Homo sapiens: one gene and its partners. The protein of the gene in region 3 purifies or fractionates together with the protein of the main gene of each other region. This does not show direct contact. Each region holds a gene or a part of one and is shown on either strand. Other genes may lie near its edges. The genes, in order: TRAPPC10, TRAPPC6B and HUNK.

Region 1 (3,656 bases), about 12 Mb from region 3:
AGTCACAGAATCCCAACACATTGTATTAATGATGACTGGGGGGGGTCTTACAGCCTGATGTATATAGGATGAATAAATGTAGAGAAAGGAGCATTTTCATGAAAAATAAAATTTAAAAACCAGGTAGGATTTATTTTAAAGAACACAGTTGAAAGTAAAACATTTACATCAGCCCAGTTTGCCCTTTTGTAAAAAGTAGTATAGCTTTTCATTTTATATACAAACCTGCAGTGTCTGATTTCATTTTAAAACTTAATTTTAAGCACTAAAGAAAATTTGAATAGAAGCCTGTGTGTATTTTCTCTGCTAATTCTGTATGGGATATCTGGCATCTCCACTAAGAGTAATTAATACAGGATCTGACCTTCCTAGGCTGTGCTGACAATGGAACTGTTGTAGGTAAAGTCATTTTCAGATTAAATACAACAATTTCCACATTAGAATCAGAAGAGTTATAATTTTTCCAATCATAGGACATCCCATGAAATTCACAAAAATTATAACTTATTTTATTTTCCATTTGACAGTATTTACATGTTCCACAGATATTTGTAAAACGGCTGCAAATTCCTTGCTTTTCAGATACACATTGCATATCTGGCTTCACAATTATTTAACATCTCTTTATCAACAAAACCAGCTTGTCTCAAACACATACACCTTACTTTAGATAAAAACAATAAACATCCAATTACAGTTACTCTTTTAGGACTTTTATGATGAACATTAAGAAAAAAATGACAATTTTGGGTGACATTCTTCTTTGTCTTAAAGAGGCAGAAGCATTCATGTAACATAGTTTGCAAAAGATCTTTTGGGTAATTAGGGGGAAAAAAACTGATAAATTTGATTTCATTTCATTTCCAGGCAATTAAGCGCCGTAAACATTTTAAATTTCCCCTTCACTTTCTTCCTCTAAATATATATGTAGTTGGATAATTTCATCCTGGGAGTAGAACCAGATACAAGAAAATCAAACAGTAATAAATGAAACATTCCCTCTTCCAGAAGGTAAGAGAGAAAGCTACATTACACTGGGGAAGGCTCCCAGGCTGACGACACGGATTACAGTCTCTTCTGACGGAATCAAATCTCCCATCTCTTTATTCACAGGACTTGGTAGAAATGCAGGGCAATCGTCAATTTTTACAATAAAAAACCTTATTTTAGAAACCCTAAACTATCATTAGATTCTGAAGTTCTAATTTGCTAACTAGTTTGACCAAGTTTGTTAAACTGCACATGAGGAAGATAAATTTCTGGAAAGTTTAATTACACAATTATTTATCTTCTTTACACGTCTCCAGTTTCTACAAATGAAAAAGACAGGAGGAAAAAAAAATCACACCACCTTTATTTATTGAATGAGCTAAAAGACAACACAGAGAATACTGGAAATGACGGCTGTCATATTTCCCCGGTCTGTGCCTCCTTCCTCCCATGCCCCACCGCCTCCCGCAAGCACAGTGCTGGGCAGGAACCCGGTGCTCCTTCTCTCCACAACTTGCACATCCACGGGGATTCACACGAGGGCCACCCACTGCTGGACCCGACTCTATCTGCTTGAGCTAATCTTGTCAAGTTCAATTCCAAGCACATTTGCCCAGTAAATTAAGAGTACTCTATTTCAAGTGTACAAAAATACATCGCTTTGGAGAACTGGAAAAGGTTTAATACATACAACACTTATTTACAAGCTGTGACTTTCACACCTGTAAAAACAAACACACTTATTTTTGTCCTTGATTTTTGGTGCAACTTATACATAAACATTACATCAGTTAGTCTGTATTTTTAAAAATAATAAATCAACCATATGTACAATTAAATTTACAACCGAAAGCAAATAATCCATTGGAACAGTGTGACTGCAACTCAGTAGACCAGTGGAGGACATTCCAGGACTTGAGTCCTTCCCTACAACCAGACCAAAAACACACTGAGGACCTCTCTCATCCTCACGATGGAATATCTTAATTTCTAAGACTTAAGATGCAAAAGAAAAATAACGATTATACAGCTACAATTACATGTAAAGACTTTAAAGGGACAGAAAAACAACATATTAACCCCCACATATATAATGATCATTAAATTAAATATATTTAACTCCCAGTGCATATGATATTCTATCAACATTATGGGGGACCACAGGGTTCCAGAAACATTTATCCCTAAACCACCTCACCGCTGAGGCGCTCCTCACAGCCGGGTCTCAGCTTTCTTCAGTACCTTTCACGTGGCTCCGGCTGATGGGCCTCCAGGTCCCCCAGCTCCGGCATCCCAAGGCACAGAAGGGGTTATGATCCCTCCCTCCCCCACCCGCCTCCCCTAGAAGGGTGTTATTCTAGAAAAGCACAATGAGAGGATCTGCGGTAAACGGCTGTTTTACCCCTTAGGGGACACAAATCCACCCCGATCAGGAAACTGGGCAGCTGTGTGACCAGAAAGGCACACACGTCACTAAGACCGTGAGGGCTGCTGAGTGTCTACCTGAAAGACAAATGGCCTTCCACGAAGAGCCAGCAGACGGAGGCTGTTCCGTGGAGACAGCGTGGGTGGAAACTTTCATGAGCAGCGTGTGAGGTAGGGGGAGGGAGGCCAGGGCTCTGAGTAAGCGGCGTCGGACACCAGCATGGGGACGGGGTGAGAAAAGCAGGAATCTGAGATCACAGGCGGCATGAAAACAACAACAGAACTCAGCTGGCCAGCTGCGTGATGACACTCTCTGATGTCCCCACGGCCAGGCAGGACCACTGAAGGTCTGGCTGGAGCCAGAACGGAAGAGTCCAGTCACAGTCCCATAAAGTGCACTCCTAGCTGGGAAGTGGCGTGTGTTCACCCTGGCGTTGTCATGTTACACTGACTTCCAGGACGTGGTCATCTTGGCTGGGGATGACCAGGACTTGTGTGCCCGAGCTGGAGTTGAAGACCTGGCCGGCCGGCAGTGCCTGCAGCCGGGGCATGGGTAGGCCTTTGTGCTCGCTGCTGCAGGCCGAATGCACGCTGCCCCTGCTCTTGAGGCTGCTGCTGTCCGGCTGGTCGTCCCCGTGCTTGTCTACTGACAGGCTGTCGTTTTCTATCCAGCTGTCTGCAAAACACACAGGAAGTTAGACCCAAGCTGCGCCGACACTCACCTGGGGACGGGCAAAGCCACACGGAGCCAGGCTGAACGTGCAGAATGCCACCCGAGGCTGCCCCTTTACAGAGCACTCTGTGCACAGAGGCTTGGCTTTCAGAGCAGGTGCCTAAGATTCTAACAGCGGATGAGGCTTCTAGTACCAGTTTCTACCGGCACTGAAAACACGCCGCTAGTTCTCCAACCTGCTCAGTCATAAGTTTATCACCTCTCGCACAAAGTGCTCACCTGCTCAAATACTGAAGGTAAACTTTTTCTTCCAAAGTCCTTACCAGCGTCCAGTTGGGAGGAGTGTGCAGAATGATGGGGGAGGTACTTGAACAGCCTGACGTCGGGCAGGGGGAGATACCCGGCGAAGAGCGGCATCACTTCCATGTGGACCCTGTGAGTGGCCCGAGCAGCCACTGGCATGGAGATGACACCGCAGCTTTTCCCACACACTGCCCAGTTGCTACTGTTGTCGACAACTGAAACGAGAGGAAGCGATGTGTCATCCAGGACGGGCCTTCCAGTACTC
Region 2 (3,656 bases), on a different chromosome or scaffold from region 3:
GAATCCTGGTTGGGCGTGGTGGCTCACGTCTGTACTCCCAGCACATTGGGAGGCCGAGACAAGCGGATCACTTGAGGTCAGGAGTTCGAGACCAGCCTGGCCAGCATGGTGAAACCCCACCTCTACTAAAAATACAAAAATTAGCCGGAGTGGTGGCACATGCCTGTAGTCCCAGCTACCTGGGAGCCTGAGGCAGAATGGCTTGAACCCAGGAGGCGGAGGTTGTGGTGAGCCGAGATCGCACCATTGCACTCTAGCCTGGGCAACACAGCAAGACTCCATCTCAAAAAAAAAAAAAAAAAAAAGAAAGAAAGAAAGTGGTGAATCCCCTGTTTGAGAAAAGGCCTAAGAATTCTGGCATTGGACAGGACATCCACCCAATATGGACCTCACTCACTTTGTGAAATGGCCCCGCTATATCAGGTTGCAGTGGCACAAAGCCATCCTCTGTAAGCAGCTGAAAGTGCCTCCTACAATTAACCAGTTCACCCAGGCCCTGCACCGCCAAATAGCTACTTAGCTGCTTAAGCTGGCCCACAAGTACAGACCAAAGACAAAGCAAGAAAATAAGCAGAGGCTATTGGCCCGGGCTGAAAAGAAAGCTGCAGGCAAAGGGGATGTCCCCACTAAGAGACCACTTGTCCTCCGAGCAGGAGTTAACACCATCTCCACCTTGGAGGAGAACAAGAAGGCTCAGCTGGTGGTGACTGCACACTATGTGGATCCCATCGAGGTGGCTGTCTTCCTGCCTGCCTTGTGTCATAAAATGGGGGTCCCTTACCGCATTATCAAGGGGAAGGCAAGACTGGGATGTCTAATCCACAAGAAGACCCGCACCACTGTCGCCTTTACACAGATTAACTCAGAGGACAATGGAGCTTAGGTTCAGCTGGTGGAAGCTATCAGAACCAATTACGACAGACAAAACGAAATCCACTGTCACTGGGGAGGCAATGTCCTGGGTCTCAAGTCTGTGGCTTGAATTGTCAAGCAGGAAAAGGCAAAGGCTAAAGAACTTGACACCAAACTGGGTTAAACATACACTGTTGAGTTTTCTGTATATAAAAATAATTAAAATAATCCAAATTCTTCTTCTTCAAAAAAAAGAAATGACTCTAAAGACATAAAGGTGATATATTTGTGGTTCTGCATATTATTACCACTAATTAACAGTAACTAAGGAACCAAATAGTAAAAGCTATTCTCATCCTGACTTATGCTACTTTAAAAAACTTAACATAGCATATAATTGGGTGAAAGGAACAGCTATCATTACTGATAACTGTCCCTTTGTCTTTACTCAGTTCACACTATTAGAAGAAAAAAACTAATAACTCATTAATAACATAAACATATTCCAAAGTTAACCAGAAATTATTTTAGGTTTTAAATAAGTCACTAAAATACGATATTTATATCAAGTTAAAGGACTTTAAAATATAGGCCTTAATTAATTTAATTACCTGATGATTTGTCCTTAGATTGTCGATTTGTTTCTTGAATACCGTAGTCCAAAAATCTTTACAAATGAACTTCATGATATCTAACTCATCCTTGAACCTTGCAGTATCTTTTGTAAACCTAAAAAGATCAACTAGAAGTAATACAGTATTTCTCCTCCAAAAAAAGCAAGAGGGACTAATTATTAACTAATTTCCAAATGCCAGAACAGCACTGAACATTTATTGGGTTTTTTAATTTTAATTTTTTTTTTGAGACAGATTCTGGCTCTGTCGCCCAGGTTAGAGTGCAATAGCATAATCTCGGCTCATTGCAACGTCTACCTCCCTCCCAGGCTCAAGCTATCCTCCCACCTCAGCCTCCCTAGCAGCTGAGACCACAGGCACATGTCACCATGCTCAGCTAATCTGTATATCTTTGTAGAGACAGGGTTCCACTTTGTTACCCTGGCTGGTCTCAAACTCCTGAGCTCAAGAGATTCTCCCACCTTGGCCTCACAAAGTGCTGGGATTACAGGCATGAGCCACCACACCTGGCTGAACATTTATTAACACTAATAAAGTCATAAGCACCAGGTAACATGATCCTATCTCAATGGATTCACATTATGTTATATAAATTATGAGGCCTCAAATTAGTCTAACATTATAGCCAAAATTTCAGGTGCAATGCATTCTAGCACATCAAAAAACCACAAAAGAACAAAGAGCTGAGCATTATCATGACATTGTTATATAAAATATACTCCGAGTTTAACTATTCAGGTAGTGAGAAAGAAATACTAAAAAGAACTGATTTATAAGTTCAAAGATAATTACACGCATAAACATAGACTATAGTTATTTCAAACCTATGTACTTAAAAATTCTATGCAGGTTAAAGAACCTAGCAGATCTTAAGTTGAAAATGCAGTAAGATTTTAGATAGTTGCTTCAATAGCTTCAGGAATAAAGTCTAAAATAGCTTCAGGAAGAAAGTCTAAAATATATAAAATATATATTTTCTTTAAACATTAAAATAAAATTTGAATAAATGAGTTAAATGGCATTGGATCTAAAAAGAAATTTTAATTTTTGAAGTAAAGAGAATAACATTCAGGAATTAAAATTAAAATATCCCAAGTTTTATGCAATCTTTTGAAATAGATCACCTTTGTTTATAACCTACCTGCAAGAAAATTTTCAAATCCAACCTGCTCACCTTTCTATCAATCCTTGTCCCACTCGAAACCCCATGTTTTCCAGCTTAGTAATACATCGTCCGTTTTCCTATTTTAAAAAACAATAGTTTTAAATACTTTTAGAATGCTAGGATGTTAGTATTCAGAAATTGTTTTACAAGATTGGTTAAAAATATTAATGTAAACATTTATACTTTTTTCCCTGAAACAGTTTAAGAAAAAGTGAATTATAAGGTTGATTTTATTTATTTTACTTTACTTTTACTTACTTTACTTTTTACTTTTTTTTTGATAAACAAGTTAATTCATAATTTAGTCAACATATACATGATTAACCTAAAAACTTCAATAGAAGGATACATTTTTTTAATTTATTTTGAGATGGAGTCTCGCTCTGTCATCCAGGCTGCAGTACAGTGGGGCCATCTCGGCTCACTGCAACCTCCATCTACAGGGTTCAAGTGATTCTCCTGCCTCAGGTTCCTAAGTAGCTGGAATTATAAGCACCCACCACCATGCCTGGTTAATTTTTGTATTTTTAGTAGAGAAAATACAAAAATACAAAATGTTGGCCATGCTGGTCTCAAACTCCTGACCTCAAGCAATCCACCTGCCTTGGCCTCCCAAAGTGCAGGGATTACAGGCGTGAGCCACCGCGCCCAGACAGAAAGATACATTTTAAAACCACTTGGAAGGCCATCTCTATAGAAGTGATTTTCCCAGGATAGTAACCAGATGTAACCTAACCCAACACCATCTTAACTGTCAGAGGTTCAATGGGTTAAAGCTTTGTGCTCCTCCCTGACACCAAGTCTTTTAATAGAAACAAACCCCTCAAGACACGGTGGCTCATGCCTGTAATCCCAGCACTTTAGGAGGCCAAAGCAGGAGGATCACTTGAGCTCAATGGCTCAAGACCAGCCTGGGCAACATAGCAAGACCACATCTGTACTAAAAGTAAAAATAAAATAGCTGGGCATGGTAGCATGTGCCATTTTGGAGGCTGATGCAGGTG
Region 3 (2,701 bases):
GCTGCATCCCAAGTAGCCCTATGCTCCTGTATTTCCCAGCCTCTTGCTCACAGACAAGGCAGTGTGACCAGTTCCAGTCAATGGGCTGTGGGAGAAGTGATGAGTCCCCTCATAGAATGTTTAAGGGCTGGTGGAAAACTCTCCAGCCGTGCCTTCCTGTGCTGGAGCAGCCAAAGACGTTTCATTTTGAGGGGACACAGCCACAAGTTGGATGTAGCCTGGATCCCTGAGTCACCATATGGAAGACAGCCGTTTTGTGGTCAGCCCAGCCTCATAAAAATATTTTAAGAAATAAACCTTTATTGGGCAAGTCACAGAGATTTGGAATTAATTTGTGATCATAGCAAAGCCTAATCTTCTAGCATACTGGTTGCCAGAGGAGGTGAGCACTGAACACTGATGAAGGAGTCAGGGGAAGGCATTCTCATCTCAGATCTGCCAAGAACTTCACTGCCCTACTTTCGGCAAGAAGACTTGTTCCCAATATAGGCTTGCAATTTGCCCTTTCCAGCTGGCTATGGTAACAAGACTAGAAAGAACACATTTTTAAAAAAAATTATAGAGTTTAAATGTAAACCAAAGCCTTTGCTTTCAAAATTGCTAATAGCCCATCTTCCAAGTAGGAAATACAAAGAGCTGAGGCCCTGAAGTCAGACCCATTTATTTTTTTCACCTGTAAATGATACAGCTTCCTGTGCCATCTTTAAGTTTTAAACCACTCAACTCCAATTGATCCTCAAGTTTGCTCCACATAAAGCTATTCTATCCTTCCAAAATTGGTTGCCCCAAATGCCTCATTATTGGAACACCACCAGCTCAGATGTGGATACATGTGGAGGGGGACTGCAAATCCTGAAATGCTCCTCACCTTCTCTTCCAAAGCCTCCTCAGCTTTCTCCCCCAACCTCAGTCCCTTAGTGCCCACAGACGTCAACTCCTAGAGATAACTGTGTGTCACAAAAACATGTCCACAGAGAAGAAGTACAAATATATATCCTATTTGTCTTTGCAACCAGATGTCTGGAAAGCTCCCTTAACAGAAAAGCTGCCACAAATAATATACTCATTTACTACTCAGGAAATGCACTCCCTTCATTGAAAAGTGATGACATGAAATTGAACCAACTCCCAGTACCGCTCTGAATTATTCTTACTGTGCCTGTAGCTCACAGAAGACCCCACAAAGAAAATAAATACACTAACCAACAGGCTTCCAGACTCCCCCAAAAGATAGCAGTTTTGCATTCTTTCTGAATTTGCTTCAGTGTATGATATGGCTCTATAGGAAATGTTTTATTGATTTAATCTAGTAAAACCCAATAGCCTCTTAATACCTAAAGTAGATAACAAGGCTATCCAGGGGTTTGCTGCTTACTTGGGAAGTCAACTGAGAAAGACAGAGTTCCCAAAGAAAGCTGTCTTTCCCCAGCTTCAAGAGTGGATGGGACAAACAGCATAAGGTTCAGGAAGCTGCACAGTTTTGAAAAGGACTTAAAAATGCAAGACCTAGTCCCTGCAGGAACTTCAGAAATACCTGTTGTGATGACGGCTTGATCTGTTGTTGACATCCCCCTCTGACCATGGCAGCCACTCTCTGATTTCTCTGTGTTCTTTGAGGGAGAAACTCTGCTCCAGACCAGCTCAAATGCCAGCTCATCTGGGGACTCTGGGGTGTCCTTAAACCATCTGGGTCCCTAGTTTTCCCTTCTTCAGAAAGGCTGGGGCTGAGCCAGAGAATCTTAGGTCCTTTTCTATTCTAAAGTGTTGGGATTCTTACAAGAAAACATTGTCATCAAAACTAGATACTTGTTCTTTTCCCCGGAATCCGACTACTGGGGCTTTGCACAGTGAACAGTGAGCTTCTCCACTTTCTAGCTATGTCACCCTCTAAGGCTTCGTCCCCTCACTTCCCAGGGGAAACAAGGTGGTATATATGAAAAACGTTTTGTGAACAGTTATGAAGGAAGCAGTAACTGGGACAATTTCAAGAGGTCATCTAGATCCCACCCTCCCATTCCATCCCATCATCCCTCTTCCCCTATCCATGACCAAGGCCTCCTACAAGGACAAAATCTAGAAGTCACGTTCATAACTGCCATTCTTTGTGTGCCATTTTCAGAGTCTCCAAGGAAGATCCTAATATCCCCAAATGAAAAAGGTTGATTCTTCTTGAACTGCCACCTGCAGTGTGTATGTCAGAAAGACTTTTGTAGGCACACCTATTGCAGGTAAAATAAGGCAGGGAAACTGGCCCAGAAAATGCCCCCCAATGCAATTCCCGCTTGTTTCCAGTCAGATGCTAGGTCAAGAGCTTTACATAAGGCCAGGCACAGTGGCTCACGCCTGTAATCTCAGCACTTTGGGAGGCCAAGGTGGGCAGATCGTTGGAGCCCAGGAGTTTGAGATCAGCCTGAGCAACATGGCGAAACCCCATTTCTACAAAATACAAAAAAAATTAGCTAGGCATTGTGGTGCACAACTGTAGTCCCAGCTACTTGGGAGGCTGAGATGGGAGGATCACTTGAATCTGGAGAGGTTGAGGCTGCAGTGAACTGTGATTGTGCCACTGCACTCCAGCCTGGGTGACAGAGCAAGACCCTGTCTCAAAAAAAGAAAAAGAACTTCACATAAAAGATGGTACCTGTACTATTATTTGCAACGTACTTAGTTGTTTTAAGATTTATCAGCAAATAAAGAAGCA

What was found.
Region 1: the proteins of HUNK (region 3) and TRAPPC10 purify together in Homo sapiens (affinity purification with mass spectrometry; one large-scale study listed by BioGRID and IntAct). This does not show direct contact.
Region 2: the proteins of HUNK (region 3) and TRAPPC6B purify together in Homo sapiens (affinity purification with mass spectrometry; one large-scale study listed by BioGRID and IntAct). This does not show direct contact.

What each region holds. Positions count from the first base shown.
Region 1 is NC_000021.9:44,102,728-44,106,383, reverse strand, and holds part of TRAPPC10 (trafficking protein particle complex subunit 10), read right to left. Parts: intron 3,607-3,656; coding exon 3,412-3,606; intron 3,092-3,411; coding exon 2,853-3,091; 3' UTR 1-2,852. UniProt on the Homo sapiens protein: Specific subunit of the TRAPP (transport protein particle) II complex, a highly conserved vesicle tethering complex that functions in late Golgi trafficking as a membrane tether.
Region 2 is NC_000014.9:39,156,822-39,160,477, forward strand, and holds part of TRAPPC6B (trafficking protein particle complex subunit 6B), read right to left. Parts: intron 2,730-3,656; coding exon 2,662-2,729; intron 1,582-2,661; coding exon 1,464-1,581; intron 1,096-1,463; exon of another isoform or gene 301-1,095; intron 1-300. UniProt on the Homo sapiens protein: Component of a transport protein particle (TRAPP) complex that may function in specific stages of inter-organelle traffic.
Region 3 is NC_000021.9:32,002,009-32,004,709, reverse strand, and holds the end of HUNK (hormonally up-regulated neu tumor-associated kinase), read right to left. Parts: 3' UTR 646-2,701; downstream 1-645.